2 linked regions of the Homo sapiens genome follow. The protein of the gene in region 2 interacts with the protein of the main gene of each other region in a biochemical or structural test. Each region holds a gene or a part of one and is shown on either strand. Other genes may lie near its edges.

Region 1 (15,291 bases), on a different chromosome or scaffold from region 2:
CTTCTCAACCTCATACTTTTCTTTCTTTCTTTCCTTTTTTGAGACAGAGTCTCACTCTGTTGCCCAGGCTGGAGTGCAGTGGCATGATCTCACTGCAACCTCCGCCTCCCGGGTTTAAGCTATTCTTTTCCTCAACCTCCCCTATAGCTGAGATTACAGGTGCATGGCACCACGCCCAGCTAATTTTTGTATTTTTAGTGGAGACAGCATTTCACTATGTTGGCCAGGCTGGTCTCGAACTCCTGACCTCAGGTGATCCACCCGACTCAGACTCCCAAAGTGCTGGCATTACAGGTGTGAGCCACCGCGCCCAGCTCAACCTCATAGTTTTCTGTTAACACTTTCTGGCTCCTTTTTCATAATGTGCACAGAAATCTATGTTTCTTCAAAGGTAGTAAACTCTTACACACTTCACCCCTTAACTTTTTATCAGTTTGATTTGCCTTTTTTTTTTTGAGATGGATTTTCACTCTTTTTGCCCAGGCTGGAGTGCAGTGGCATGATCTCACCTCACCACAACCTCTGCCTCCCGGATTCAAGAAATTCTCCTGCCTTAGCCTCCCAAGTAGCTGGGATTTCAGGCATGCGCCACCATGCTGAGCTAATTTTGTATTTTTAGTAGAGACAGTGTTTCACCATGTTGGTCAGGCTGGTCTCGAACTCCCGACCTCAGGTAATCCGCCCGCCTCAGCCTCCCAAAGTGCTGGGATTACAGGTGTGAGCCACTGCACCTGGCTTGATTTGCCTTTTAAATCCCCCTTTTCTTTTCTTTCTTTTTTTTTTTTTGAGACAGCATCTCTCTCTGTTGCCCAGGCTGGAGTGCAATGGCGTGATCTCGGCTCACTGCAACCTCCGCCTCCCGGGTTCAAGCAATTCTCCTGCCTCAGCCTCCTGAGTAGCTGGGACTACAGGTGCGTGCCACCACGCCTGGCTAAATTTTATATTTTTAATAGAGATGGGGTTTCACCATGTTGGCCAGGATGGTCTCGATCTCTTGACTTTGTGATCTGCCCACCTCGGCCTCCCAAAGTGCTGGGATTACAGGTGTGAAGCCACCGTGCCCAGCCTAAATCCCCCTTTTCTTAGTTTTGAGATATATTTGATAATAAAAGACACATACTGAAAGTATGCAGTTTATACAGGTGTACAGGATATATACCTGTGAAAACACTACGATAATCTGAATAAATATTATTATATATTCATTATTTTCTAAAGTTTTCTTGCTCACCTTTGTAATCCTTACCCCCCACCTACTATCTAGGCAACTACTGATCTGTTTTCTGTTGCTGTAGATTAATTTGCATTTTCTAGTATTTTTAATAAATGGAATCATACAGTATATACTTTTTAACTGGATTATTTCACATAGCATAACTGTTTTTTATTTGTATGCCTTTTCTTTTTCTTGCCTTATTGCACTGACTAGGGACTCTAGTATCATGTTTAATTGGAGTAGTGAAAGTGAACATCTTTGCCTTGTTCCCAACCCCAGAGGGAAAGCGTTCAGTCTTTCAACATTAAGTATGATGCTAATTTTTAAAAATGCCTTTTTTTAGGTTGAGGAAGTTCCCTTCTACTCCTGATTTGCTGAGAGTTAATCATGAATAAATGCTGAGTTTTATCTGATGCTTTTTCTGTATCTAGAGATTATCAAAAGGTTTTTCTTGCAAAATGTATTAATATGGCGAATTACATTGGCTATCAAATTTTGAATGTTGATTTTGTTTTTGAATGTTGATGTTCCAAATATTGCATTTTTGGGATAAACCTACTTGGTCATGGTATATTATCCTTTTTACATGTTGTTGGATTTGACTTGCTAATATTTTGCCAAGAATTTTGTCTTTTCATGAGTGACACTGGTATGTAATTTCCTTTTCTTGTAATTCATTTGTCTGTTTCTTATGTTAACTCTTTTGCTTTTCAAAAGAGGATATCTAGAAATCATATTGATGTAATATGTATTATACTGGTATATTAAAGAAGTATGGTATAATTTATATTATATGATATATAGATAATATGTATTAGGTATAATAACTAATTATTAGCTAATATTAGTTATTTTTTATTTATTTATTTTTTAGACAGAGTCTCACTCTGTCACCCAGGCTGGAGTCCAGTGGCGCAATCTTGACTCACTGCAACCTCCGCCTCCCGGGTTCAAGCAATTCTCCTGCCTCAGCCTCCCAAGTAGCTGGGATTACAGGCGCTCGCCACCACGCCCGGCTAATTTTTGTATTTTTAGTAGAGACGGGGTTTCACCATGTTGGTCAGGCTGGTCTTGAACTCCTGACCTCGTGATCCACCCACCTCGGCCTCCCAAAGTTTTGGGATTACAGGCGTGAGCCACCGCGCCTGGCCAATATTAGTTATTAATAAACAATAGCTAATTCGTAGCACCCTTAAACTACTTATATATACACTACAGGTTTTCTTCTCTTTTCTGTTCAATTTTTTCCATTCTACCTGTCTGCTGCTGTCTTCTGCTGCAGTAGCTTTTCTTTGCCACTTTGCTGTAGCTTTCTGTCCCTCTTCTGTGTTGCCCTTTTCCTTTGTTGTAAACTTTTCCTGTTCTAGTCTTCTGCCTTTTAATCTCAAAATTTGTTTGTTCATTTATTCGTTCATTCAACAGAGTTCGAGGTCCTCCTATGTGCAAGACACTGTGCTAGAGGCTGGGGATACCGCAGAGAACATGACAGACGGGGTTGCAGGCATAGCTGCTGCCCTTAAGAAACTCAAGACACTGTGCTAGAGGCTGGGGATACCGCAGAGAACATGACAGACGGGGTGGCAGGCATAGCTGCTGCCCTTAAGAAACTCAAGACACTGTGCTAGAGGCTGGGGATACTGCAGAGAACATGACAGACGGGGTTGCAGGCATAGCTGCTGCCCTTAAGAAACTCAAGAGCTCCGGAGGAGCCTGCCCGCCTCAGCTAGCAAGTTTAAAGGAGCACTACTGGCCACTAAGTCCCTGAGCATCAGTTCTGTGTGACTAGGGAATCTGCTCTGGGTGGACAAGGGAACTTGAAGGGGAATTCTTCCTGGACTCAGGGGTGGGACCTCTCAGCTTATTAGGCCTTGCCCTCCCTAGGGAAGGCAGGAGTCTTGACCACCAGGGGTTCTAGATTGACTCACTGAATGACCAACTGTGGCATTTTCCAAAGCTAAACAAATTTACATAAAGTGCAAAATTCCACCCATTTACATAAAACTGTTTGTTTTTCGAAGATATCCTCAATTTGTACTGGATGGATTTGTAGTCCAGGAAGGCTCAGGGAGCCAGGATTCTTGGGTCGCGGGTCTTCAGGCATTCCTCCTTCTCCCAGGCTTCTTCTCTCTGTGCCCCGCAGGTTCCCTGCTCTGGGATGAGGAGCCCAGGCTGGGGGAGACTAACTAAAGCACAGCGTCTTGCACATAGCAGCCACTCAAGCTCTGACCCTCTTCATGCAGTGGAGGGTCCCTTCTGTGCAGCTTTACTCAGCGAGAGTTGCAGGAAGCTGGGGCAGGGACAAAACGAACATTCGTCAACTATGTTAAGGATTTGCTCAGTCTAGAAATAAGATTTTTTTTTTTTGAGACAGTCTCACTTTGTCACCCAGGCTGGAGTGCAGTGGTGGGATCTCGGCTCACTGAAACCTCCGCTTCCCAGGTTCAGGTGATTCTCCTGCCTCAGCCTCCCAAGTGGCTGGGATTACAGGCGTCCGCCACCAAGCCCAGCTGATTTTTGTATTTTTAGTAGAGATGGGGTTTCACCATGCTGGCCAGGCTGGCCTCGAACTTCTGACCTCAAGCGATCCGCCCACCTCGGCCTCCTAAAGTGCTGCTATTACAGGCGTGAGCCACTGCACTCAGCTTAGAAATAAGATTTTTAAAATTTTCATTTTAACATTAAAAATTGCACATTTTCTTTGGGAGGCCGAGGTGGGCAGATCATGAGGTCAGGAGATCGAAACCATCCTGGCTAACACAGTGAAACCCCGTCTCTACTAAAAATACAAAAAATTAGCCAGGCGGCAGCGGGCGCCCGTAATTTTAGCTACTCAGGAGGCTGAGGCAGGAGAATCGCTTGAACCTGGGAGGCAGAGGTTGCAGTGAGCCAAGATTGCGCCACTGCACTCCAGCCTGGGTGACAAAGCGAGACTCCGTCTCAAAAAAAAAGAAAAAGCACACATTTTTATCCACCGTTCGTGGCTGGCAAGTGTTCCTATATAGTTTTTTGGGGTTTTTTTTTTTTGAGATGGAGTCTTGCTCTGTTGCAGTGGTGCAATCTCTGGAGTGCAGTGGTGCGATCTCAGCTCACTGCAATGTCCACCTCCTGGGTTCAAGGGATTCTCCTGCCTCAGCCTCCCAGGTAGCTGGGATTACAGGCGCCCACCACCATGCCTGGCGAATTTTTAGTAGAGACAGGATTTCACCATGTTAGCCAGGCTGTTCTTGAACTCCTGACCTCAAGTGATCCTCCCACCTCGGCCTCCCAAGGTGCTGGGATTACAGGCATGAGCCACTGTGCCCAGCCAGTTCCTATATAATTGAATAAATGAACCACTACTAAGTGCTTAGAGGGGATGGAAATGTTGCTATAAAGACAGAATAAAAGCTAAGTAATTAAAACTTGGCAAAATTCTTCAAAAGCTTTTAAAATCATCTCATCAGATGAACTACTATAAGCTTTATATATGCCTAACAGAAAAAGAATTTTGGTAAATCAGTAAATTTGGTAAAGTCAGTGAATTGGTCATTTGGCAAAATTGGCTTAAAAGACTTTTAGAAATGCTACCTATGGGGAAAACATAAATTAATTTTAAACTGTCTTTAAAGTTAATCATTACAAGATTAAAAATTTCCATGTGAAACACTAAAATTTTTGTTATATTTAGCAGGATACAGTCATAAGAAAACAAAACCATACTAAGATCATTGACTATTTTTTTAGGTCCCCATGAAAGCAGAACCTTGACTATTTTTTAAACTTGCAAATGTAGAGAAAAGTTGCAAAAATAGTGCAATGAATACCCATATATCCTCTACTTCGCCAATTAATGTTTTGCCACATTTGCTTTCTCTCTGTATAGAGGTATTAGTTGTTGTTAGACAATTTGAGAGAAAGTTGCAGGAATTATGACTCTTTAGAATCTATTTCTAAGGGCTGTGTGCAGTGGCTCACACGTGTAATCCCAGCACTTTGGGAGGCTGAGGTGGGCAGGTCACTTGAGGTCAGAAGTTCGAGACCAGCCTGGCCAACATGATGAAACCCCGTCTCTACTAAAAATATAAAAACTAACTGGGCGTGGTGTTGGGCACCTGTAATCCCAGCTACTCGGGAGGCTGAGGCAGGAGAATTGCTTGAACCCAGGAGGCACAGGTTGCAGTGAGCTGAGATTGTGCCACTGCACTCCAGCCTGGGCAACACAGCAAGACTCTGTCTCAAAAAAAAAAGAAAGAGAATATATTTCTAGGGATATTCCTTAACATAACCATGCTAAAATTACCAAGTTTAGAAAATTTAACATTGATGCTGTACTATTATCCAATTATGGTTCATGTTCAAATTTTGCCAATTATACTACAAAATTTCTTTTTCTTTTTCTTTTTTTTTAAGATGGAGTCTTGCCTTGTTGCCCAGGATGGAGTGCAATGGCATGACCTCAGCTCACTGCAACCTCCGCCTCCCAGGTTAAAGAGATTCTCCTGGCTCAGCCTCCCGAGTAGCTGGGATTACAGGCGTCTGCCACCATTCCCAGCTAATTTTTTGTATTTTGTATTTTCAGTGGATCCATGATCCAGCCTGAGTGACAGAGCGAGACTCCATCTCAAAAGAAAAAAAAACAAAAGAAGGGGTTCAGGATTATGAGGGAAAGTAGAGGGATGGGATAGGTAACGCATGGCTAGTGCAGATTATTGTCATGTTTATTAATGGCTTTAAAGAAAATCCAGTACATGTAACTTGAACTTGGACATATGAGAAAAAGCCTGTTTTCCAGCCTTTTTGCTACAATTTTAGTTTTTGGATTTCTTTTTTTTCTCCCCAAGACAGTCTCACTCTGTCACCCAGGGTGGAGTGCAGTGGTACAATCTCAGCTCACTGCAACCTCTACCTCACGGGTTCAAACGATTCTCATGCCTCAGCCACCCAAGTAGCTGGGATTACAGGCGTGTGCCACTACACCCGACTATTTTTTCTTTGTATTTTTAGTAGAGACAGAGTTTCACTATGTTGGCCAGGCTGGTTTCGAACTCCTGGTGTCAAGTGACCCGCCTGCCTGGGCCTCCCAGTGTTGAGATTACAGGCGTGAGCCACCGCTTCTGGCCCCTAGGATTTCCTGATAAAGCTGATTGCCTTTTTTTTTGAAACGGAGTCTCCCTCTGTCGCCCAGGTCTAGCTCTGTCTTCCAGGCTGGAGTGCAGTGGCGTGATCTCTGCTCACTGCAAGCTCCGCCTCCCGGGTTCATCACGCCATTCTCCTGCCTCAGCCTCCGGAGTAGCTGGGACTACAGGCGCCCGCCACCACGCCCGGCTAATTTTTTGTTGTATTTTTAGTAGAGACGGGGTTTCACCGTGTCAGCCAGGATAGTCTCCATCTCCTGACCTCGTGATCTGCCCGCCTTGACCTCCCAAAGTGCTGGGATTACAGGCATGAGCCACCACGCCCGGCCTTTTTTTTTTTTTCTTTTTTCAGACGAAGTCTTGCTCTTATCGCCCAGGCTGGAGTGCAGTAGCACGATCTCGGCTCACTGCAAGCCCTGCCTCCTGGGTTCAAGCCATTCTCCTGCCTCAGCCTCCTGAGTAGCTGGGATTACAGGCGTCTGCCACCATGCCCGGCTAATTTTTTTGTATTTTTTAGTACGCCTGTAATCCCAGCACTTTGGGAGGCCGAAGCCGGCGGATCACCTGAGGTCGGGAGTTCAAGACCGGCCTGACCAACATGGAGAAACCTTGTCCCTACTAAAAAATACAAAATTAGCCGGGCGTGGTGGCGGATGCCTGTAATCCCAGCTGCTCAGGAGGCTGAGGCAGGAGAATCGCTTGAACCCGATCGCGCCATTGCACTCCAGTCTAGCCAACAAGAGTGAAACTCTGTCTCAAAAATAAATAAATAAATAATATAGTGTTAATTTGGGATTATACTGTATGCCAAAAAATAAAGTTCATACATTTATAGAACTAGAAGTAAGGCCAGGTATGGTGCCTCATGCCTGTAATCCCAATACTTTTTGGGTGACTGAGGCAGGAGGACTGCTTGAGCCCAGGAATTTGAGACCAGCTTAGGCAGCACAGTGAGACCCTGTCTCTACCAAAAATTAAAAAAAAAAAAACAAATTAGCTGGGCATAGTGGCACTGCCTGTGGTCCCAGCTACTTGGGAAGCTGAGGTGAGAGGATCCGCTTGAGGAGGTTGAGGCTGCAGTGAACTGTGGCAGCGCTACTGCACCCCAGCCTGGGTGACAGAGCAAGACTGCGTCTCCAAAAGAGAAGAAAGTCACAGAAGGAAGAGAAATCCCAATGAGTAATATTGCCCCTTTCTTAAAGAAGTATAATCGTTTAGTAGGAAAATGAGAAAGTTTGAAAGAGAGTATTTTTTTAACCTAAATGAAATCATAAATGGCTTCAAGAGGCTCTTTCATTTCATTTTTAATTGCCAAAACACTTTTGTCAAGTTTGAAAATACCTAAAAGCCATATATTATTTTAATATAGAGTCATTAGTTTTTCACGGAGTTATTCTTGATCGCTCTTTCTCCCTCACTTGCCACAGTCAGTCCTTTATAGAGTAGTGCTGATTCTGTTGCCTTCACATTGCTGTAATCTGAGCCTCCTTGTTCTCTTCAACCGCTGCTGTAGTTTAAGCCTGGGTTTGCAAACTAGCAACTCAAGGGCCACCTTCAGCCTACAGACAAGCTGTGTTTGGCCTGTGCAAAGTTGAAAGTTTAAAAAATTTGTTGCCAACGTTTAAAAATTTGGAAGTAGTGCTTAAAAATGCAGATCCTAGCTTCTTTTAAAAAATCAAAATATCATAGCTAGGTGTGGTGGCTCGCACCTGTAGTCCCAGCTATTCAGGAGGCTGAGGAAGGAGGACTGCTTGAGCCCAGGAGTTCCAGGCTGCAGGGAGCTATGATTGCGCCACTGCACCCCAGCCTGGGCGACAGAGAGAGACCCCGTCTTTGAAAAAGAAAAAAGAGAAACCAGAGTATCTGGCAACCCTAGGCCCACGTTTCTTTCAACTGGTTCGCTTCACTTCTTAGCATTACTTGGTTATCCCCCATAAGGATGACCAGTCTCCTATCTAGCCTTCCACCGTTACCTCAATATAGTATTATATCTGCCCCATCTCCTGTCCACATTGTCAAAAGTGGCTTTCTCATCAGATTCGATCAAATCACTTCTTGATTTGCATATGCTTGATTTGCTGATTGTTTTCAGGATAAAATCCAAACTCCTTAAAATGGCATTTCATGATCTGGTTTCCCCACACCAGAATGCCCACACCATGCTGCTGCTCACTCCTTCCCAGCTCTGGCTACCCAGCACCTGCAGTTCCCAAGCCAGCACTTCCTTCCTTGTATCTGCCGTGTTGCTCTCTCCACCTTCTCTTCTTTCTCCTGGCTAACCCGTACTCAGCCTTGAAAACTCTGCGTTGACATCCATCTTCCGAGAGCCCCCAGAAGCCTTTCTCTCCTGCTCTTTTATGATCCCAAAGCAACCTGTGCTCTTGTTTGTGAGCGCTTCATTTAAATGCTCGAGGTCTCCAAACACCACCAGCGGACATTAAGCCAGGGCGGGCTGAGTGGGGTTAATCGTACCGGGATTAGATTAGCGTTATTGCCTAGTCTACATCTCGGACTGAGTTCGGTCCCCAGCGTGTAATGTCACGGGGGTGAATAAGGATACGCCCCGGCACGGATTCCTGAGACCAAGGTCCCCCGCCGCTTGCAAGCCGGCCCAGCCAACCACCGGGTGCGTAGTAATCCACGAGCGCGGCCTGGGATTGGAGGGCGCGGCCTGCGGGAGCGGCCTGGGATTGGAGGGCGCGGCTTGCGGGAGCGGCCTGCCGTTGGAGGGGCGCGGTCTGCGAGCGCGGCCTGGGATTGGAGGACGCGTCCTGCGGGAGCGGCCTAGCCTCGGAGTGCTCGCCGGGGGCTGTAGTCCCCGGAGCCGGAAGTGGGGGTGGCCGGGATAGAAGCCGCAGCCCAGGCGGCGGTCCCTCCCGCTGTCGCCGCCCGGGTGTAGCGCATCACCCGGAGCCCACCGGCCGCAGGTGCCTCCTCCGGCCCCAGGGGGCCCCGGGAGCCCTGAAGGGCGAAGCGGCAGGGACGCCTCTCTTGGGCGAAGAGGCGGCCTCACCGCCCCGGATGCGGCCGGAGGGCGCGGGAATGGAGCTCGGAGGCGGCGAGGAGCGCCTGCCTGAGGAGAGCAGGTGGGCTGGGAGCCGCCGCGGAGTCGGGGCAGCGACAGGCGCCGGAGCCCCGGGAGGCTTGGGAGGGCGCGGGGTCACGGAGAGAAGGGCCGGGCGCGACGAGTCTTGAGGACGACGGCTGCGGAGGACTTGTTTGGGAAGCATTTCGCAGAGGAAGGACGGGCGGGGCGGGGATGGGACGAAGGAACCGGCTTAGGGTGAGGAGGGTGGGTGGGATTTGCGGAGGGCAAGGGCAGCAGAGGAGGGTGAAGCTCAGATCCAAGACTGCTGGAGAGGAGGTGGCAGCTGAGAGACTGGGCGAAGAGGCCAGAGGGGTGCAGTGAGGTTTTACAGGCCAGAGTCTATAGACAGGGGCAGGGCACCACCCGGACTGAAACTTGCCGTGACAGCAAGTGGGGCCAACGCGAAGAGGATGTGAGAATTCCTGGGAGCAGAGGTGAAGCGTTATGAGTGGCCTCGGAAGAAGCTTAGGCAGAGATGAGCATGGGGATGAAGGCGAGGAGAGCCTGGGGAGAAAGTGAGCGAGTGTCATGGCAGTGCGGTGGGGCGGGGACTGCTAATGAGACCAGAAACTCTGCACTTTGTCATTGCCGAATCCCTGTCAGAGAGTGGCAGGACCTCTGTGCCATTTCCTTTTCGTCTTCAAACCTGTCCCTTTTTCCTCACAATGCAAACTAAGCAAGTTCACATTTATTTATATGGAACCATGTCAGAAAGCTCATATCTTCTAGAAATTGGGGGATTTAAAATATAAAAACTACTTTGGACCGGGTGCGGTGCCTCACACCTGTAATTCCAGCACCTTGGGGGAGGCTGAGGCGGGTCGCTTGAGTCCAGGAGTTTGAGACCAGCCTGGGTAACCTAGGGAGATCCCCGTCTCTACAAAAATACAAAAATTAGCTCGGCGTGGTGGTGCTCACCTGTGGTGCCAGCTACTCGGGAGGCTGAGGCGAGAGGATCACTTGAGTCCAATAAGTCGAGGCTGCATTGAGCCGAGATCGCACCACTACACTCCAGCCTGGGTGACAGAGGAAGACCCTGTCTTCAAAAAACAAAAAGCCAAAGAAACCCCGAACTACTTTGACTAAATGATGAATCGGAGTCTGTAGAGATGCCTTCCATATTTAGGGTTTGCTTCATTAATAACTCTGGTCTTAATCTTTTTTAAAGAGGCTGGAATGCTGACAGGCGAGAGCAGGAATGTGGCTTAAGGGAGTCATACTTGACATTTATTATTTTATTTTTATTTTATTTTTTGAGACACAGCCTCACCCTGTCCCCCAGGCTGAGCGCAGTGCCGTGAACACGGCTCACTGCAGCCTCCAACTCTTGGGCTCAAGCGATTATACTAGCTCAGCTTCCCAAGTAGCTGGGGATATAGGTGCCAGCTACCACATCTGGCTACTTTAAAAAACTTTTTTGTAGAGACAGGGTCTCACCATATTGCCCAGGCTGGTCTCTAACTCCTGGGCTCAAGCAATTCTCCCCCGCCACGTCGGCCTCCCAAAGTGCTGGAATTAACAGGTGTGAGCCACCAGGCCTGACCTCACTTGACATTTAGAAACAGTTTCAGATATAATGATGGTCTCAGGAGCAGCTGGGATCCAAAAACTAGAAGCAGAATATTTACCTCTGAGAAAATATCAACAAGGGAAGATTTATGAGATGTTCCTGGGTGAAGACTTGCTATTTTTAAGGGTGACTCTACTTTTATGTGCAAAGTGGCCTGTTGAACAAAACCTGGACTGACAGGACTTTGGGGCTCCTGCCTGAGATCTGAGAATGATTTGTGCTAAGTGAAACTGAACATCTTACTTCCCTTTTCCATGTTTCAGTTTCTGCTTTGCCTATTTGACTATTTATTCTTCCTGCAGATGTCTGTGACGTGCTTCGTGTGAAAGGTCCCATGTAAATTCTAAACACGTTTTAGGATTGTTTTGATTTCCCTCTACCACTTCATGTGAGGGAGGCTGGGTTAGTTATTTTTTTAATGTATGTAACAAATGCTATTTACCACATGCCAGGAATTGTTTTAAGGTATTAAGATATGAATACTGCGTTAACTTCTTTAATCCCTATAACTATTGTATGTGGTCGGTACTACTGTTATTGCTGTGTCACAGATGAGAAAGCTGAGAAATGGACAGGGTAAGTAACTTGCCAAGGTTGTACAGCGAATCCCTGGCAGAACTGGATTCAAACCCAGGCAGTTCGGCACCAGAGTCTGCGCTTTTTTTTTTTTTTCTTTTTTTAGACAGGGTCTCACTATGTTGCCTAGGCTGGTCTCAAACTCCTGGGCTCAAGATATTCTCCAGCCTCGGCCTCTCAAAAGTGCTGAGGTTACAGGCATGAGCGACCATGCCGGCCCAAGAGACTGCACTTTTTTTTTTTTTTTTTTGAGATAGAGTCTTGCTCTGTCGCCAAGGCTGGAGTGCAGTGGCACCGTCTTGCTTCACTACAACCTCTGCCTCCCAGGTTCAAACAATTCTCCTGCCTCAGCCTCCCAAGTAGCTGGGATTACAGGTGCCCGCCACCACGCCCAGCTAATTTTTTGTATTTTTAGTAGAGACGGGGTTTCGCCATGTTGGCCAGGCTGGTCTCAAACTCCTGACCTCAGAGGATCTACCAGCCTCCGCCTCCCAAAGTGCTGGGATTACAAGCGTGAACCACCGTGCCCGGCCCGAGTCTGTACTTTTAATACTCACCCTATGCTGCCTCTCACTATGCTAATAGTAACAACGGAAGTATAAGATAGTGAATAAATTTCACAGCATTCTGTGCCTGTCATTCAGGCCAGTAGGATAGCTCCTTTGCAGAATCTTTTCCCGTCTTTTATTCTTTTTATGATTGCCTCTTAACCAAAAAACTTTAATCAAAACTTAATTTTAGTAGTGGGGTTATCCTCACAAAGTCACTCCCGTCATTGTTATAGGCATACTGTGTTGGCGGCTGATTAATTCAGAATGCGTTGTTTAATGAGGCTTCATGGTACTGATGGCCTCCTTAGCTCCAGATACACAACTGGTAAATACACATTCCTTGTGCCTATTAATTGAGGCTTTGTGACTGGGTTACTGCAAACATAACCTTTCTATGGCCAATGAAATACCCAGTTCAGAAACAGTCTTCTTGATGAGATAGCATCATTTTTATTTATTTATTTATATATTTTAAAGATAGGGTCTCACTGTGTCACTCAGGCTGGAGTACAATAGTGCAATCGTAGCTCACTGCAGCCTCAAACTCCTGGGCTCAGGTGATCTTCCCACCTCAGCCTCCTCAGTAGCTAGGACTACAGGTGTGTGCCACCACTCCCAGCTAATTTTTAATTTTTTCAGATTTTTTGTAGTGACAGAGTCTCACCATGTTGCCTAGGCCAGTCTCAAACTCCTGGCCTCAAGGGATCTTGCTGCCTTGGCCTCCCAGAGCACTGGGATTACAAGCATGAGCCACTGTGCCCAGCCGGTAGTGTCATTTTAAAAATGAAGGATGAAACTTTTCAGTGTATTTTCCTTAAGTAGTTGATATAATGAAACGTGAATAAGCTTTAAAGTCAGACCTGCATTTGAATCCTAGTTCACGGATTAATTTGGCTTAACTTGATCAAGTTACTTTACGTAACCTGCCTGAGTAGGAAGAATAATGCTTTCCTGCCTGAGAAGTTCTGAGGATTCAATAAAACAATGTGCATAAAGCTCCTGAGAGCCTGATACGTAGGAAGTAGGAAAAATGTCGAATCCACCCCTTGCTAGTTTTTTTGAAATAAGGCGAGGGTCTCCCCCACAAGTGACTGTTTGCAAGGGTATCACTTGTTCTTCCTCTTTCAGTGGCTCCTTCATCCGAGTTGAACACATTGGGACCTAGAGTGTTGGCTTAGCTTCCCACTTCCCCGGTAGTGTGCTTAGGTGATGGGCTTCCCTATTGTTTTCCGTCTAGCTATCACTCCAGCCAGATGCTCTGGGGCTTAGGGATGATACTTCACTTTCCCTCCGTTTCCTAAATGCCAGTTATTTTGAGGTTGCCTGGTAAAACTACTACACTACACTGGGCACGGTGGCTCACGCCTGTAATCCCAACACTTTGGGAGGCCAAGGTGGGTGGATCACGAGGTCAGGAGATCGAGACCATCCTGGCTAACACAGTGAAACCCCGTCTCTACTAAAAATACAAAAAATTAGCCAGGCGTGGTGGCAGGCGCCTGTAGTCCCAGCTACTGGGGAGGTTGAGGCAGGAGAATGGCGTGAACCCGGGAGGCGGAGCTTGCAGTGAGCCGAGATCACGCCACTGCACTCCAGCCTGGGAGACAGAGTGAGACTCGTCTCAAAAATACCCAAACTACTAGACTGGTAAACTGCTAAAGGAATGGTCTTTCTGGCATTGCTCTGTCTCCCTAGACCGCCTTGGCCATGCAGTGTACTGTCTCCCTAGACTGCCTTGGCCATGCAGTCTACTGCTGAGCTTGCAGCTCAGGTACATGTACTGCTCAGTGCTCCTGGCACCGTGATCCAGGTACAGTCAGAATTCAAGGAGTAAGATCCGTTTTAGCATCTCCAAACTAAGCTTATTCCACTGACCAAAACCTGCCCCTCCTCTGATCTCTGTTAATAGCATTTTCCACTCACTCAACATGCCAGAGCGTCAGAGTGACATTTGACATTTCGCTCTTCTCTATTTCCCATATGTAAGCAGTCACCAGGGTCTAAAATTCTGTTCCTAATTTTTCTTTTGAAGCCTTCTTTTTCTCTCCATTTCCAAATATAATGGCTTATAGTACTAAAAAATCTAGGGTGACTGGGAAGTGAGGAGCCACTCTGCCCGGCCAGCCGCCCTGTCCCGGAGGGAGGTGGGGGGGTCAGCCCCCCGCCCGGCCAGCCGCCCCATCCGGGAGGGAGGTGGGGGGGTCAGCCCCCCGCCCGGCCAGTCGCCCCATCCGGGAAGTGAGGGGCGCCTCTGCCCGGCTGCCCCTACTGGGAAGTGAGGAGCCCCTCTGCCCGGCCAGCCGCCCCGTCCGGGAGGGAGGTGGGGGGGTCAGGCCCCGCCCGGCCAGCCGCCCCATCCGGGAGGTGAGGGGCGCCTCTGCCCGGTCGCGCCTACTGGGAAGTGAGGAGCCCCTCTGCCCAGCCACCACCCCGTCTGGGAGGTGTACCCAACAGCTCATTGAGAACGGGCCATGATGACAATGGCGGTTTTGTAGAATAGAAACGGGGGAAAGGTGGGGAAAAGATTGAGAAATCGGATGGTTGCCGTGTCTGTGTGGAAAGAGGTAGACATGGGAGACTTTTCATTTTGTTCTGTACTAAGAAAAATTCTTCTGCCTTGGGATCCTGTTGATCGGTGACGTTACCCCCAACCCTGTGCTCTCTGAAACATGTGCTGTATCCACTCAGGGTTGAATGGATTGAGGGTGGTGCAAGATGTGCTTTGTTAAACAGATGCTTGAAGGCAGCATGCTCCTTAAGAGTCATCACCACTCCCTAATCTCAAGTACCCAGGGACACAAACACTGCGGAAGGCCGCAGGGTCCTCTGCCTAGGAAAACCGGAGACCTTTGTTCACTTGTTTATCTGCTGACCTTCCCTCCACTATTGTCCTGTGACCCTGCCAAATCCCCCTCTGCGAGAAACACCCAAGAATGATCAATAAAAACAAAAACAAAAACAAAAAACCTCTAGTTAACACATAATAATGCCCGCACTGAGCAGATGTTCACTAAGGTGTTGAATAAATAGTTGAAACTGTAAAAAAAAAAAAAAAAAAAAAAAAAAAAAAGATGCTTTTAAAATATGAAAAAAAAAGATATTTTAATGAGAAAAGCTGAGTGTTGGGAGAGAAGCTGATGCAGGGCTTGCATGTCTGCTAGACTTGCTGGCTCCTT
Region 2 (14,913 bases):
CGATGGCACGATCTTGGCTCACCGCAACCTCTACCTCCCAGGTTCAACCGATTCTGCTGCCTCAGCCTCCTAGTAGCTGGGATTACAGGCATCTGCCACCATGCCCGGCTAATTTTGTATTTTTAGTAGAGGCAGGGTTTCTCCATGTTGGTCAGGCTGGTCTCGAACTCCTGACCTCAGATGATCCGCCCGCCTCGGCTTCCCAAAGTGCTGGGATTACAGGTATGAGCCACCACGCCTGGCCATGAACATAATTTCTTTACATTCATTTTAGCACTGAAGTGCCAGGTAACACCCACCCCCGCTGCCCTTCAGTGAAACAGGTGTTTTAGTCCTGTACCTTCGTAGCTGCTGTCAGTACTTCTTGCTAAGGAATTGCCTAGGGTTGTGAAACTGCCCTTAAGAGAATGGTTTTCAGCCTTGGCTGCATGTTGGACTCACCAGGCAAGTCTTTAAAAATACTGATTCCTGGGGTCCCAGGCCCAGAGGTTCTGATTTCACTGGTCTGTGGTGCAGCCTGGGCACCAGAATTTTTTTGAAAACTCCCTGGGTAATTCTGATATACAGGCCAGGTTAAAAGCTTAAGACCTGCTCAGTCAAAGGGAAGATGTCTTCTTCCTGCCTACACTGTTTCAGCTGGGACATCACCCTCCACAAATTCCTGAGTGGAAAGGGCTGTGGTTACTTTGGAAGCCTGTGGCCCTAGAGTTCTGGAACTAATGCCTCGGCAACATACTCCCCAAGACCTGTCTACATGTTTTTCTGTTGTGGGATATGTAGTATTTTGCATCCCACTTTGGTTTTACCCAATCCTTTAAGAAAGGGTCAGCTAAGTTTTGGCCAAGTGTTGTGGTCCATGCCTATAATCCCAGCAGTTTGGGAGGCCGAGGCCAGCAGGTCACCTGAGGACAGGAGTTTGAGACCAGCCTGGCCAACATGGTAAAACCCCGTCTCTACTAAAAATACAAAAATTAGCCGGGCATGGTGGTGCACGCCTGTGGTCCAAGCTACTCGAGAGGCTGAGGCAGGAGAATCGTTTGAACCTGGGAGGTGGAGGTTGCAGTGAGCAGATATCACGCCACTGTACCACTGCACTCCAGCCTGGGTGACCGAGCAAGACTCCATCTCAAAAAAAAAAAGAAAGGGTCACCTGAGTTTTTAACAATCTGATTCTTCAATGAATCCCTTTCCTTTTTACCACAGATTGGCCTGTAACTTTTGCTGGACTTTGGTGCTCTCCTTGATTTTATTTGCTCTTTGCCTTTGGGCCCCAACTTTTATTTCCCACCTTAACTCCTCTGCACGTTTTCTTGTGTGAAATCTCCCAATATGAGGAGAAAGTCAGTGATTTCTGGGTCTATCAAAAGCAGCCATTGTTCAAAGTGTTTTTGTCCTTCTTCACCTCCAGGATGAAGAATCCATCCAGAAGATAAATCCTTCCAAGCCTGGACTCCATCTACCTGGCTCTCCTTTAGTATGTTTCATCTTCCTGTACTTTCTCATAAATTTCAGAAATTTATTCTGCATGCCTCCTCAGGGCAAAGGCATCTCTACCTACAACTGTCACCTTGACACTCACCTAACAGTGCTTGAAGTGTCCTATACTGATCTTTCCCCTCTTAAATCTGTACACATTTTCTAGTTTTTATTTATTTTTATTTTTATTTTTATTTTTTAGACAGAGTTTCACTCTTGTTACCCAGGCTGGAGTGCGGTGGTATGATCTTGGCTCACTGCAACCTCTGCCTCTTGAGTTCAAGTGATTCTTGTGCCTCAGCCTCCCAAGTAGCTGGGATTACAAGTGCCTGCCATCACACCCTGGTAATTTTTTGTATTTTTAGTAGAGACGGGGTTTCACCATGTTGGCCAGGCTGGTCTCGAACTCCTGACCTCAGGTGATCTGCCTGCCTCAGCCTCCCAAAGTGTTGGGATTACAGGCGTGAGCCACCACACCTGGCCATTTATTTTTATTTTTTTAGAGACGGGGTCTTGATATGCTGCCCAGGCTGATCTCAAACTCCAGGGCTCAAGGGATCCTTCTGCTTCAGCCTCCCAAATCACTGGGATTACAGGCATGAGCTACCACGCTTGGCCCACATTTTCTGTTATGACTTGACAGAACCTATAAAAGCAATTGGAGAACTATTTAAAAGACAATTTCCCCAAGGGTTTATTGAATCTGAGCTCTTACAGTGGAGAGGGGGACAAGGGATGGGGGGAACATATGCCAATCTATTTTCTGAGCTCTTCACACTCTGCCTCTGTTATATTTCCTTGGAACCCAGTTACCATATCCGGTAGGGTCATAACCAACAAGGATCCCTCTTCTGCACCCTCCTTTTAAAAGCTTTAGAGACCTAAGTTCATGTTCTTTCCTGTTCCATTTCTGTCTTCCCTATACTTTAAGATCTTCCTCCAGTTAAATTAGCCTGTATTCCTTTATTTTTCTTTTATTCATTCATTGCTTCCATACTGATAGTAAGATTGAAGCATCTTCTACAAACCACTCCATTTCCTCCTAGATTTTGAGAAAACTCAATTCCTGGAAAGACAGCATACTAGGCGTAGCCCTTGGGCTTCCGAATTTGCAGTCAGTTCACTGAGTTGTTGTATACTAGGCATATGCCTTTGGCTTCTGCATTTGCAGTCAATTCACTGAGTTGTTGTATACTAGGCATACCCCCACCTCTGGCTTCTGACAGTATACTAGGCATACCCTTTTGGCTTCTGAATTTGCAGTCAATTCACTGGCCTCAATTCCAAAGTGGTGCCTTCTTTATGGAAGGGTCACCATCCATTATTTGTTCATTGGGGGAAAAAAACCCTACAGTTACTCCTCCGTGAATAAAGCCCAAAGCCAGATCTCTGAAAAGTCTGGAACTTTCAAAATGCAAGCCATGATCTGGGCTTTCATGACCTACTTGGGGACCTTAGTTGGCAGCAAAACTCCATGGGTTATACCACATGCATCCAAGTGGTATGTAAGAAGTATAACCCTTTTTCTAACAGTTTAGAAAGAACAATAATCTGGGGGGAGGGGGAAGGAGGGAGGAAAGGAACAAGGGGTGAAAAACTAACTGTTGGGTACTGTGTTCACTACCTGCTGGCGGGACCAACTGTACCCCAAACTTTAGCGTCACTCAATATACCCATGTAACAAGTCTGTACGTGTACCCCCAAATCTAAAAGTTGAAATTATATTTTTAAAAAAGAACGATAATCGTGAAGATAGCTAAATTTCCTCTCTTGACCATGAATGTAGTTTAAAACAACATAGAGAATAAGAGAATGAGGCAACTGTCTGCCTATGCCTAGCACAAAACTCCAAGCTCAGAGAATTCACCTGTGTTTGGAGTTTATTTTCTAGTCATCAGTGATTACTAAAAATAAATGACTTGTTCTTGATAGTCTAATCCCTTTCCTACCCACTCTCTTAAGCCAAAGCTGCTCTCAGTAGAGCCACCATAGGACCATGGTCTGCCTGGCTTATATCAGTTAAAAACCAGGTATCGTATTTAAAAACTTAACACCAGCCCGGCGCGGTGGCTCACGCCTGTAATCCTAGCACTTTGGGAGGCTGAAGTGGGCGGATTGCTTGAGCTCAGGAGTTCGAGACCAGCGTGGGCAACGTGGTGAAACGCCATCTCTACTGAAATACAAAAAATTAGTCAGGCGTGGTGGCAAGTGCCTGTAGTCCCAGCCACTGGGGAGGTTGAGGCACAAGAATCACTTGAAATGGGAGGCGGAGGCTGCAGTGAGCTGAGATCACGCCACTGCACTCCAGCCTGGGCGACACAGCAAGAGTCTGTCTCAAACAACAACAACAACAACAACTTACACATTCCATAATAAGAAATCAAATTCTAAAACCTGCCTGGACTGCCTCAGACACCTAGATATCCTCATGTCATTCTGGTATCCAATGCCAGTTCTCCTCTTTTCTTCAAAGACAGTGCACCAAGATTTTAGGGAGCCAGTAACAGTACCTTTTTTCCACATCCAATTTGGAGCTAATTAAGAAATAAGACAGGCCGGGCACGGTGGCTCATGTAATCCCAGCACTTTGGGAGGCCGAGGCAGGCAGATCACAAGGTCAGGAGATCGAGACCATCCTGGCTAACATGGTGAAACCCCGTCTCTACTAAAAATACAAAAAATTAGCTGGACGTGGTAGCAGGCACTTGTAGTCCCAGCTACTCAGGAGGCTGAGGCAGGAGAATGGCGTGAACCTGGGAGGCAGAGCTTGCAGTGAGCCGAGATTGCACCACTGCACTCCAGCCTGGGCAACAGAGCAAGACTCCGTCTCAAGAAAAAAAAAAAAGAAATAAGACAGAGGCCGGACACGGTGGCTCACGCCTGTGATCCCAGCACTTTGGGAGGCCGAGGCAGGAGGATCATCTGAGGTCAGGAGTTCCAGACCAGCCTGGTCAACATGGTGAAACCCCGTCTCTACTAAAAATACAAAAATTAGCCAGGTATGGTGGTGGATGCCTGTAATCCTAGCTACTCAGAAGGGTGAGGCAGGAGAACTGCTTGAACCTGGGAGACGGAGGTTGCGGTAAGCAGAGATTGCACCACTGCACTCCAGCCTAGGTGACAGAGCAAGACCCTGTCTCAAAAAGAAAAAAAAAGCAAGAAGACAAATGGAAATTAAAATGTTTGTTTTTACTGATAGCATCAACTGGAGAACAGAACCTTAGCTCTGTAGCCAAGTCTGGATAATATACAGCTGACCAAGAGCAGCTTACCAGCTAGTTGAGTGGAGACCAGAACTCCATCTTCACTACAGGAAGACAAATGTGAGAAGGTCCCAGAAAGTACTGAGCCAAGCATGTCAGTTCCTTCACTGAAACTCCTCAATATTCAAGTCCCTCTTTTTCCTCCCATAGCAGAGACTGACAGTGTTTCTCCCATACTGTTCCCTCCCCAAAAATGAATTAGAAGCCCCCTCCCCTCTGTAGGAGCAAAGGAGAGGAAGCAAATGGGAGGGGAAAGAATACAAACCTAAATAATCTGCGTAAGAGTAGGAATGACAGTTTCCAGCCAATAAGGTTATAAGGACTCTCTCAGGTTCCTCAGTCAGAGTCAAACAATATAAGCCCATGAAACATCATTACAGTCAACAAAAGCAAGAGGAAAGGTGTTCTGTTTCTTTGCAAGAGCAGCAGCCCAGCTCTCTTTCTGGCACAGTGCCAGGATTTTCAAATGGCCTCAAGGTTCAGCTGTCTTTGCTTCTGTGTGTGTATAATCTAATATGTTTTCAGAATCCCTGTGGGGAGAAAATACTTCAAAATGCTCAATTTAAAGAATTCACAAATTTACCACAAATTTTCAACCCTAAACTTTTAATGATTCCATTAAATATATTATCAACCAGCCAGACTAGAACGAAGAATCAGAAAAGCTATGGTAGTTTCCATGAAGATTAAATGACAGGCTGGGCGCAGTAGCTCACACCTCTAATCCCAGCACTTTAGGAGGCCAGAATCACTTGAGGTCAGGAGTTCAAGACCAGCCTAGCCAAGATGGTGAAACCCGGTCTCTACTAAAAATACCAAAAAAAATTAGCTGGGTGTGGTGGTGCACAACTGTAGTCCCAGCTACACAGGAGGCTGAGGCAGGAGAATCACTTGAGGCGGAGACTGCAGTAAGCTGAGATGGTGCCACCGCACTCCAGCCTGGGCAACAAAGAGAGACTCCATCTCAAAAAAAAAAAAAAAAAAAAAAAAAGATTAAATGACAGCCAGACACAAGAGAAGTATAGGGGGAGAGTGGGAAAAGAAAGTTTATGAGTATGAAAACAGACAACTAGGCCAGGTGCCATGGCTCAAGCCTGTAATCCTAGCAGTTTGGGAGGCCAAGGCAAGTGGACTGCCTGAGCTCAGGAGTTTGGGACCAGCCTGGGCAACATTGTGAAACTCCGTCTCTACTAAATACGAAGAAAAAAAAAAAAAATTAGCCGGGCATGGCAGCTACTTGGGAAGCTGAGGCAGGAGAACTGTTTGAACCCGAGAGGCAGAGGTTGCAGTGAGCTGAGATCGTGCCACTGCACTCCAGCCTGGCGACAGAGTGAGATTCCATCTCAAAAAAAAAAAAAAGAAACAGAAAACTAAATGATCTAAGTCATTCACTTTTTATTAAACTAGGTAAATAGCAAGGTAATAATAATGCCATAGACTCTTCTCGTAAGAGTCTATCTTGCTTGCCAAAACTCTAATATGTTACTACACAGTCATTCACTTTTTATTAAACTAGGTAAATAGCAATGTAATAATAAACCCATAGACTCTTCTCATAAGCGTCTACCTTGCTTGCCATAACTCTAAGTTAAATATATTATTTACACAGTTATTTTAAGGATGAACCTAGAAGTTTTAAATTCAAAAATAATTGTCTCAGATGCTACATGAATCTACAAGGACCAAGGAGCGATACTGTTCTTCCATCAATGAAAGCTTCCTCAGAGAACTCACCCACTATATGTCCAGGGTTTGTTTCAAACTCTGGACAACCTTCAGTTTGCTAAAACTCAATGTCCTGTGTTAAACGACAGGAAAAAGATGTATTAAATCTTAGCAACGGTGATATAAAATAATCGGTTTTACAGTTTAATCTTGGTTAGGTTAAACTTTCCTACATAACTAAAAGCAAAGCAGAAAAAACAGTTGATAAAAAAGCAAAATCTTTATCCTTTTTTTTTTTTGTTTTGGTTTTTTTTTTTGGAGACAGAGTCTTGCTCTGTTGCCCAGGCTGGAGTGCAGTGGCGCAATCTTGGCTCACTGCAAACTCTGCCTCCCGGGTTCACGCCATTCTCCTGCCTCAGCCTCCAGAGTAGCTGGGACTACAGGCGCCCGCCACCACATCCAGCTAATTTTTTGTATTTTTAGTAGAGACAGGGTTTCACTGTGTTAGCCAGGATGGTCTCAACCTCCTGACCTTGTGATCTGCCTGCCTCGGCCTCCCAAAGTGCTGGGACTACAGGCGTGAGCCACCGCGCCCGGCCTCTTTATCCTATTTAGAGCCATTTGAGAAACATATGCTCCTTAGAATGTGAAAGGATTTCTTATCAAAACTGCTGCTTCAACTGAAATACAATATGCAGGGACCTAACTCTTTCTTAGTGACCAAATATCCGACCATATACCACAAAGGAAGGAATTCTACATCCTAAATTATTTCTCTCATACCATTTGGACATTAAGCAGGTTGCAAAAACAGATGATGAACTCTAAAATGTAATACTTTTAGACAAGACATTGGCCAAACTGATCGATTATTACAATAACATGTGCTATAGATACAAATGTTACCTTCCTCATGCTTGGGTTTTTGTTTTCTTTTAACAGTATACTTGATCCTTAGTACCACTCCCCCACCTTTCAGAGAAAAAAAAAGGAAAAGGAATTACATTCAGTAGATTACTTTCTCCTTGATATCTCATTTTGAGCTTGGAAGAACCCAGATTAGCACAATTAATGGTGAGATCAATATAAATAAGGAAAAATGGGAAAGAGGATTAAATCAAATTAACACAGGGCACCAATTTGGATTTTTTTTTTTAATCCCTTATAGGAAGTTGATTGGATGTTACTGCAAGGTTAAAAAGTTACTTGAGTCTGAGAGGTAAGACCTATTTCAAAACATCAGTTTCTAAACCAAACCAAACCAAACCAAACCAAAACGCCAAAGGGAGAAAGTAAATACCCATTCCGTACATATACTAAAACCAGCTGCTCCAGGTTTGAGTGAACATGTACTTATCCATATAATTGCTTAGCTTTTCTTGTTTATTTTTAACTGCTTAACTTTTTTTTTCCTTTTTTTCTTTTTAAAATAATTTTTAATCGAGACAGGGTTTTGCTATGTTGGCCAAGCTGTTCTCGAACTCCTGACCTCAAGTGATCCATCTGCCTTGGCCTCCCAAAGTGCTGGGATTATAGGCGTGAGCTATTGCACCCGGCCAGGTATACTTGCTTAGCTTTTAATGTAATTTTAATTCCACAGAAAGAAGTATTTCCTTACATGAACATTCACATGTTAGCATTCCATGACATCAGGAATCAGTCTCTGCCCAGAAATCTACAGATGAGCATACCCACAATTAAACAATTTCAATATAAATCAACATTAAGTTAAATAATAAACATTTAACAGCCCAAATCCTCAATGGTGTAAATCCAGTTTCACAAAAACAAAAGCATCATTTATAACTGTCATCTGGCACAGGCTGATGTCTATTCAGGTCCATATTTTGCTTCTGAAAATACGTATCTTTTCTATAATTTCAATTGCCACCAAACTTTGTTTCTAAAATTTCATCTTAGAAAGTAGTACCTTCCACTTCAATTCAAAACACACGTCTGTTTTCAAAGAACTTGTTTAAAAATTTCAACACTGGACCTGTCTCTAATTCTTTCCTTCGATAGCTAGTTCCTTAATGGGCCACAAATTTAATATTAATAAAGATACTGATTCTTCGAGGCATTATATATAAAGATCCCTGCTTTGTTTTTGGATCTTAACACAGCAGAGGGTGGTTTTCAGGAAATAAAGCTACTTCTAGATACTTTAATAGATATTTCAAGCTGTAATAATATTTTATAACTAAACTGGAAAGTTAAAAATAAGCTTTTACAATATCCTCATACTTCAAGGCACAGTTCCAAAGTTACCTATTCCAAAAATATTCCTTGCTTTCTGTAGCCAGAAGTATCCTTTCTGGCTCCTGTGTTTTGTCCCTGCCTTTTTTTTTTTTTTTTTTTTGATACCTATAGCCTTCTGCCTTGTAATATGGTTACTTACAAATAACTCTTCTTTTGAATGGTAAACTGCCTTCCTAAGGGATGAGACTGTATTTTGAATTACTTCTCTTCACCATGTCTCCCTCTTGGCTAACGCACAGAAAACGTTCAACAAAACATGTGCTGAATTTCTGTGACCAGCTGACACTCTTTTTCAATCTTCTATAGTAAATCTTTGACGCTTTATGGAGACAGCGTTAATCTAGCAGCTCACCTGCTAGATTACCCACCCCCAGCACACCTCTGCACTGAGATTAACGAAACCATCTAGGTCTGAAAGTTATCATCACCTTATGACTCATCCCACTTGGTTTGAGTTCGGCAAATGAATCAATACCCTGAACTGACTGCTGTTCACAAAGCTCTTCAGAACTCTCAGTGATCGGGTTGAGAATCATCTCTCAGAAGTAGGCCGGAAACCCCGCTCCCCTTTCCCCTTTTCTTCAACTTCTCATCAGTAATGCTCCCACGCTCTCACTCCCACCTTGGAGAACTCAAGCTGCCAAATTCCTTGCTGCGTTTACCTAGTGGCGATGGAGGCACATCCAGCCTTCTCTAGTTCGCGGCCCCGACGTGCAGCCTACGAAGCACCCCTTCCGGGTGGCATCCCCACCCTGAGAGTTCTTTAACCCGTTAGCCTGGCCCTAGCCTCACCACCCCCTGCACCCCTCCTGTTCTCCTCGGTCCCACGATGTCCCCAACACTTGGGTTAGTTCAAGGACTCGGGGCGGGAAAGGGCACGCCGCGCGCCAAGGGACCGAGGCTCAGGCGAGCCCTGGCGGCTCTGCCTCAGGCCCCCGAGGAGGCGCACAGGGCCCGGCGCAGAGAGGGGCCCACCCGGCGCGAACGCTAGGGACGCCCGGCTTCTCCCCACCGCTCGGGTCGCTGACGGGGGTGGCACTGGAGGAGCTCGAGAGGGTCCGGCAGCCTGCCCTGGCTCGGTTGGGGCACCTGAAGCCGGGCAAGCGACCCCCCTCAGCGCAGCTCTCCGAGATGACGACTAGGTAACCGCTAAGGCGGAAAGAAAGGAGGCGCTTCAGGTGCCCTGGCAGGATAGGATTGGCGAGGAGGGTCTGTCCGGCTCCACCGGCCCCTCACCTTCATGGCCGCGACCGCCTCAGCTCGGCCGGCTCTACCAGGAAACTCAGCACCATAGCAGCTCCTCACACTGCCGACCTCCTTCCCTCTGGGCGGTGATTACCGCGCCCCGGGAGGCGACCGAGCGTCCGGACGTAAGGGGCGTGGTCACGCTCGCCGCGTGCCCCGGTAAAAGCGCAGAGCGGCGGCCACGACGACCAATAGGAAGCCGACTTTCGGGAGGCCGGTCACCAGAGCCAATGAAGCGACAGGGATTGGGCGGGGCCTCTGGCGTTCCTCCTGGCTGGGAGTGCGCGGGGAGGATTCTTTTCCGCCCCGAGCGAAGACCTGCGGACCTGGGCGTGGCGGAAGGCGCGCTGCGGCGCTGCTTTCTCGGTTGGGTGTTTGAAATGGGAGATAGCGTCCCTGAGGAAGCTGCTGCGGCTTTCTGGGCTAGGTGGTCAAGTTTCCGGGGAGGGGAGCGCGGGAAGGGCCGTGGTGAATTTGAACACGCCGGTTGGCTCGAAGGCCTTTGTTATGACCGTCAGAGCAGGGCCTCAGATTTCCTTCCCAGACGTTCCCGCGTTCATGCTCGGTGATGACCTCGGGGCTCCTCACTCGTGGGTCCGGTAAGGAGCGGCAGCTGCACTCGCTAGGACGCGGCCTTTAAAAACAAGACTTATTGAAAACACTTAGAAAACCAAGGGCTCTCAAATCCCAAGGGCTCTTTGAAAAGCTGTATTCAAAATAACCAAAATCGTAGCATAATAAAAGAATTTGCTCGAGTCTTGGAATTGCCTTTGGACAGAGAAACTGAGGTTGTAAATTAAGGTATCGATTTCTTCAGCTGTACTGGATGACAGTTTATTTTCCTACACCTTTTTTTTATTTTTGACAAGGTCTTGCTCTTGCCCAGGCTGGAGTGCAATAGTGTGATCTCGGCTCACTGCAACCTCCGTCTCCCGGGTTCAAAGGATTCTCCTGCCTCAGCCTCCCTAGTAGCTGGGACTTCGTGCGCCCGCCCCACACCCGGCTAATTTTTTCTATTTTTAGTAGAGACTGGTTTTCACTGTGTTGGCCAGGCTGGTCTAGAACTCCTGGCCTCAGGTGAGCCGCCCACCTCGGCCTTCCAAAGTGCTGAGATTAGCCACCGGGCCCAGCCGATTTTCCTACACTTTTTAATCTCACCTCTAACTTAACCAGTATTTAAGATTTTAAACATAAAAAAGTCAGTTCGCTCTTCATGAGGACCTAAGACTGTTCTGTTATTTATATACATTATAGATTTGCTTCGACAAGTTGTGCTATATTAGATTAAAACACACGGAGAGAGAGAGAGTGCGTGGCAGGCCACTTCCTTAGACTGAAATAATGCATCAGAGTATGTATTTCTCTTGCTTCAAGTGCTGCTCAGATAATGTCACTTCTTATCCATAATAGTCCTAGGTTTTTTTTGGAAAAATGTACAGAAAGCCTTTCATTCACGATGTAGGACGCAGCTGAGCTTCATTGGAAGAGAAAGTATTAATTAATTCTCCTAATGATCTAGACACAAAGCAACTCAATAAAAATGTTCTTGGGGTACAAAGCCATGGTTGTCCCTCATTAGAAAAGGCCTGGCAGGTCTACCTCCAGAGTTAATAAGCACATGAAAGATGCTCAACATCATTAACTATCAAGGAAATGCACATCAAATCCATGGATACCGCTGTGCGCCTGCAAGGATGGGTAACATTAAAAAGAAAGAAAATAGATGGTGAGGATGTGGAGAATTTGGAATCTTCATACATGAATGGTGGGAATGTAAAATGATGCAGCTGCTATGAAAATGCCTGACAATTCTTAAAAAAAAAAATTTTTTTTTTTTTGAGACGGAGTCTCGCTCTGTCGCCCAGGCTGGAGTGCAATGGCGCGATTTCTGCTCACTGCAAGCTCCGTCTCCTGGGTTCACGCCATTCTCCTGCCTCAGCCTCCCAAGTAGCTGGGACTACAGGCGCCCGCCACCGCGCCCGGCTAGTTTTTTGTATTTTTAGTAGAGACGGGTTTCACCGTGTTAGCCAGGATGGTCTCGATCTCCTGACCTCGTGATCCGCCCACCTCGGCCTCCCAAAGTGCTGGGATTACAGGCGTGAGCCACCGCGCCCGGCCCAAAAATGTTAAAACATACAGAGTTACCATAAGACCCAGAAATTCCACTCCTAGGTGTATACCCGAGAGAAATGAAAACCTAGGTCCACAGAAAAACGTACATGCTAATGGTTCTTAGCAGCATTATTCATAATAGTCAAAAAGTAAAAACAACCCAAATGTCCATTATCTGAGAAATGGTTAAAGGAAATGTGGTCTCTCTATGCAGTGGAATATTATTAGACCAAAAAAGGAATGAAGTACTGATACATACTGCAACATGGATGAACCTTGAAAACATCATGCGGCTGGCTGAGTACAGTGACTCACTCCTGTAGTCCTAAGGCTTCAGGAGGCGGAGGCGGGCGGATCACATGAGGTCAGGTGTTCGAGACCAGCCTGGCCAACGTGGTGAAACCCTATCTCTACTAAAAATACAAAAAAAAAAAAAAAAAAAAATAGCCGGATGTGGCGACGCACGCCTGTAATCCCAGCTACTCGGGAGCCAGAGGTGGGAGAATCTCTTGAACCCAGGAGGTTGAGGCTGCGGTGAGCCAAAATTGCGCCACTGCACTCCAGCCTGAGCGACAGAGCAAGGCCCTGTCTCAAAAAAAAAAAAAAAAAGAAAAGAAAAGAAAAGAAAAAGAAAATAATAATGCTAAGTGAAAAAAGCTAGATACAAAAAGATTATATATTGTATGATTCCATTTACAGGAAATGTCCAAAATAAGCCAATCCATAGAGATAGAAAGTAGAGTAGTGATTAAGGTCTCTGAAGGAGGAGGGGGGAAATGGAGTGACTGCTACTAGACACAGGTTTCTTTTGGGGTAATGAAAACATTCTAGGAGGCTGGGCGCGGTGGCTCACGCCTGTAATCCCAGCACTTTGGGAGGCCAAGGCGGGCGGATCACGAGGTCAGGAGATCCAGACAACGGTGAAGCCCCATCTCTACTAAAAAATACAAAAAATTAGCCGGGCGCGGTGGCGGGCGCCTGTAGTCCCAGCTACTTGGGAGGCTGAGGCAGGAGAATGGCGTGAACCCGGGAGGCAGAGTTTGTAGTGAGCCGAGATCACGCCACTGCACTCCAGCCTGGGTGACAGAGCAAGACTCTGTCTCAAAAAACAAAACAAAACAAAACAAAACATTCTAGGCCGGGTGTGATTGCTCATGGCTGTAATCTGAGCACTTTGGGAGGCTGAGACGGGAGGATCACCTGAACCCGGGAGTTCGAGACCAGCCTGGGCAACATAAGGAGATCCCATCTCTACAAAACATAAAAACAAAAATTAACTGGGTATCGTGGTGCACACCTGTAGTCCCAGCTACTCGGGAGGCTGAGGTAGGAGGATCACTTGTGCCCAGGAGGTCGAGGCTGCAGTGAGCCACTGTACTCCAGCCTGGGTGACAAAGCGAGACCCTGCTCAAAAAAAAAAAAAAAAAAAGGAAAAGAAAACGTTCTAAAATTAGCTATGTGAATGGTTGTACAGCTCTGTGAGTATACTAAAAACTACTAAATTGTATAATTTAAACGGGTGTATTATATGGTATGTGAATTATATCTCAATAAAGCTGTTAATATTGAGGAACACAAAAAGAAGAGTTAATGCAGCTGGAAAGTGGCCACAGAAGGACAATGAAAACAACAAAGGCTAGGGAGAAACTTAAGTATCAGGGGAAAATTTAAAACAGTGCAATACTTGGGAAGACTTGTCTTATTTTGTCCCCAGCACACAGATCTGTACCTAGCATAAGCAAGCTCCCAGTAAATTGTGTTTGGTTTTTTGTTGTTGCTGTTGTTTTTGAGAGAGTCTCCCTCTGTCACCCAGGCTGGAGTGCGGTGGTACAATCTCTGCTCACTGCAAGCTCTGCCTCTCAGGTTCAAGTGATTCTTCTACCTCAGCCTCCCGAGTATCTGGGATGACAGGTGCATGCCACACATCCGGGTAACTTTTTTATTTTTAGGAGAGATGAGGTTTCACCATGTTGGCCAGGCTGGTCTCAAACTCCTGACCTCAAGTGATCTGCCCACTTTGGCCTCCCAAAGTGTTGGGATTACAGGCGTGAGCCACCGTGCCCAGCTGAATTGTATTTTTTTTTTTTTTTTTGAGACGGAGTCTCGCTCTGTCGCCTAGGCTAGAGTGCAGTGACGCGATCTTGGCTCATTGCAACCTCTACCTCCCAGGTTCAAGTGATTCTCATGACTCAGCCTCCCGAGTAGTAGCTGGGGTTACAGGTGTGCACCACCATGCCCAGCTAATTTTTGTATTTTTAGTAGAGGGGTTTCACCATTTTGCCCAGGCTGGTCTCCAAGTCCTAGCCTCAAGAGATCCCCCTGCCTCAGCCTCCCAAAGTGTTGGGATTACAGGCATGAGCCACCACACCCACCCATCAATAAAAGTTTGAGTGAATACTTTTTTTTCTGGAAGGTGGAGAAGGAAAATGATTTAAAAAAAAAAAACATAAGGGAGTAAATAGGTTACACATGAGTTTACAATGCCTACCTACCTGAAGTTGGGACCTTCTGAAGTTGAGAGAGATTTGTGCTTAAATATCACTCTTTTTTCAATGAAAGAGATGCATTTTGTGATCATAGTTTTTTCTTTGTTTCAAATTTTATATAATGACCCTCTTTTTTTTTTTTTTTTTTTTTTTTTGAGATGGAGTCTTGCTCTGTCGCCCAGGCTGGAGTGCAGTGATGCAATCTCAGCTCACTGCAAGCTCCACCTCCGGGGTTCACGCCATTCTCCTGCCTCAGCCTCCTGGGTAGCTGGGACTACAGGCGCCCACCACCACGCCAGGCTAATTTTTTGTATTTTTAGTAGAGACAGGGTTTCACTGTGTTAGCCAGGATGGTCTCGATCTCCTGACCTCGTGATCCGCCAGTCTCAGCCTCCCAGAGTCCTGGG

Evidence for each region.
Region 1: the proteins of RNF34 (region 2) and RUBCN form a complex in vitro, tested with the Homo sapiens proteins (one study listed by BioGRID).

Annotation. Positions count from the first base shown.
Region 1 is NC_000003.12:197,730,780-197,746,070, reverse strand, and holds the start of RUBCN (run domain Beclin-1-interacting and cysteine-rich domain-containing protein), read left to right. Parts: upstream 1-9,166; 5' UTR 9,167-9,351; coding exon 9,352-9,416; intron 9,417-15,291.
Region 2 is NC_000012.12:121,395,205-121,410,117, reverse strand, and holds the start of RNF34 (E3 ubiquitin-protein ligase RNF34), read right to left. Parts: upstream 10,001-14,913; 5' UTR 9,906-10,000; coding exon 9,900-9,905; intron 8,080-9,899; exon of another isoform or gene 8,023-8,079; intron 7,377-8,022; exon of another isoform or gene 7,320-7,376; coding exon of another isoform or gene 7,311-7,319; intron 5,270-7,310; exon of another isoform or gene 5,005-5,269; intron 1,658-5,004; exon of another isoform or gene 1,643-1,657; coding exon of another isoform or gene 1,409-1,642; intron 1-1,408. Other genes in the region: KDM2B (lysine-specific demethylase 2B), read left to right, coding at 1,409-1,642. UniProt on the Homo sapiens protein: E3 ubiquitin-protein ligase that regulates several biological processes through the ubiquitin-mediated proteasomal degradation of various target proteins.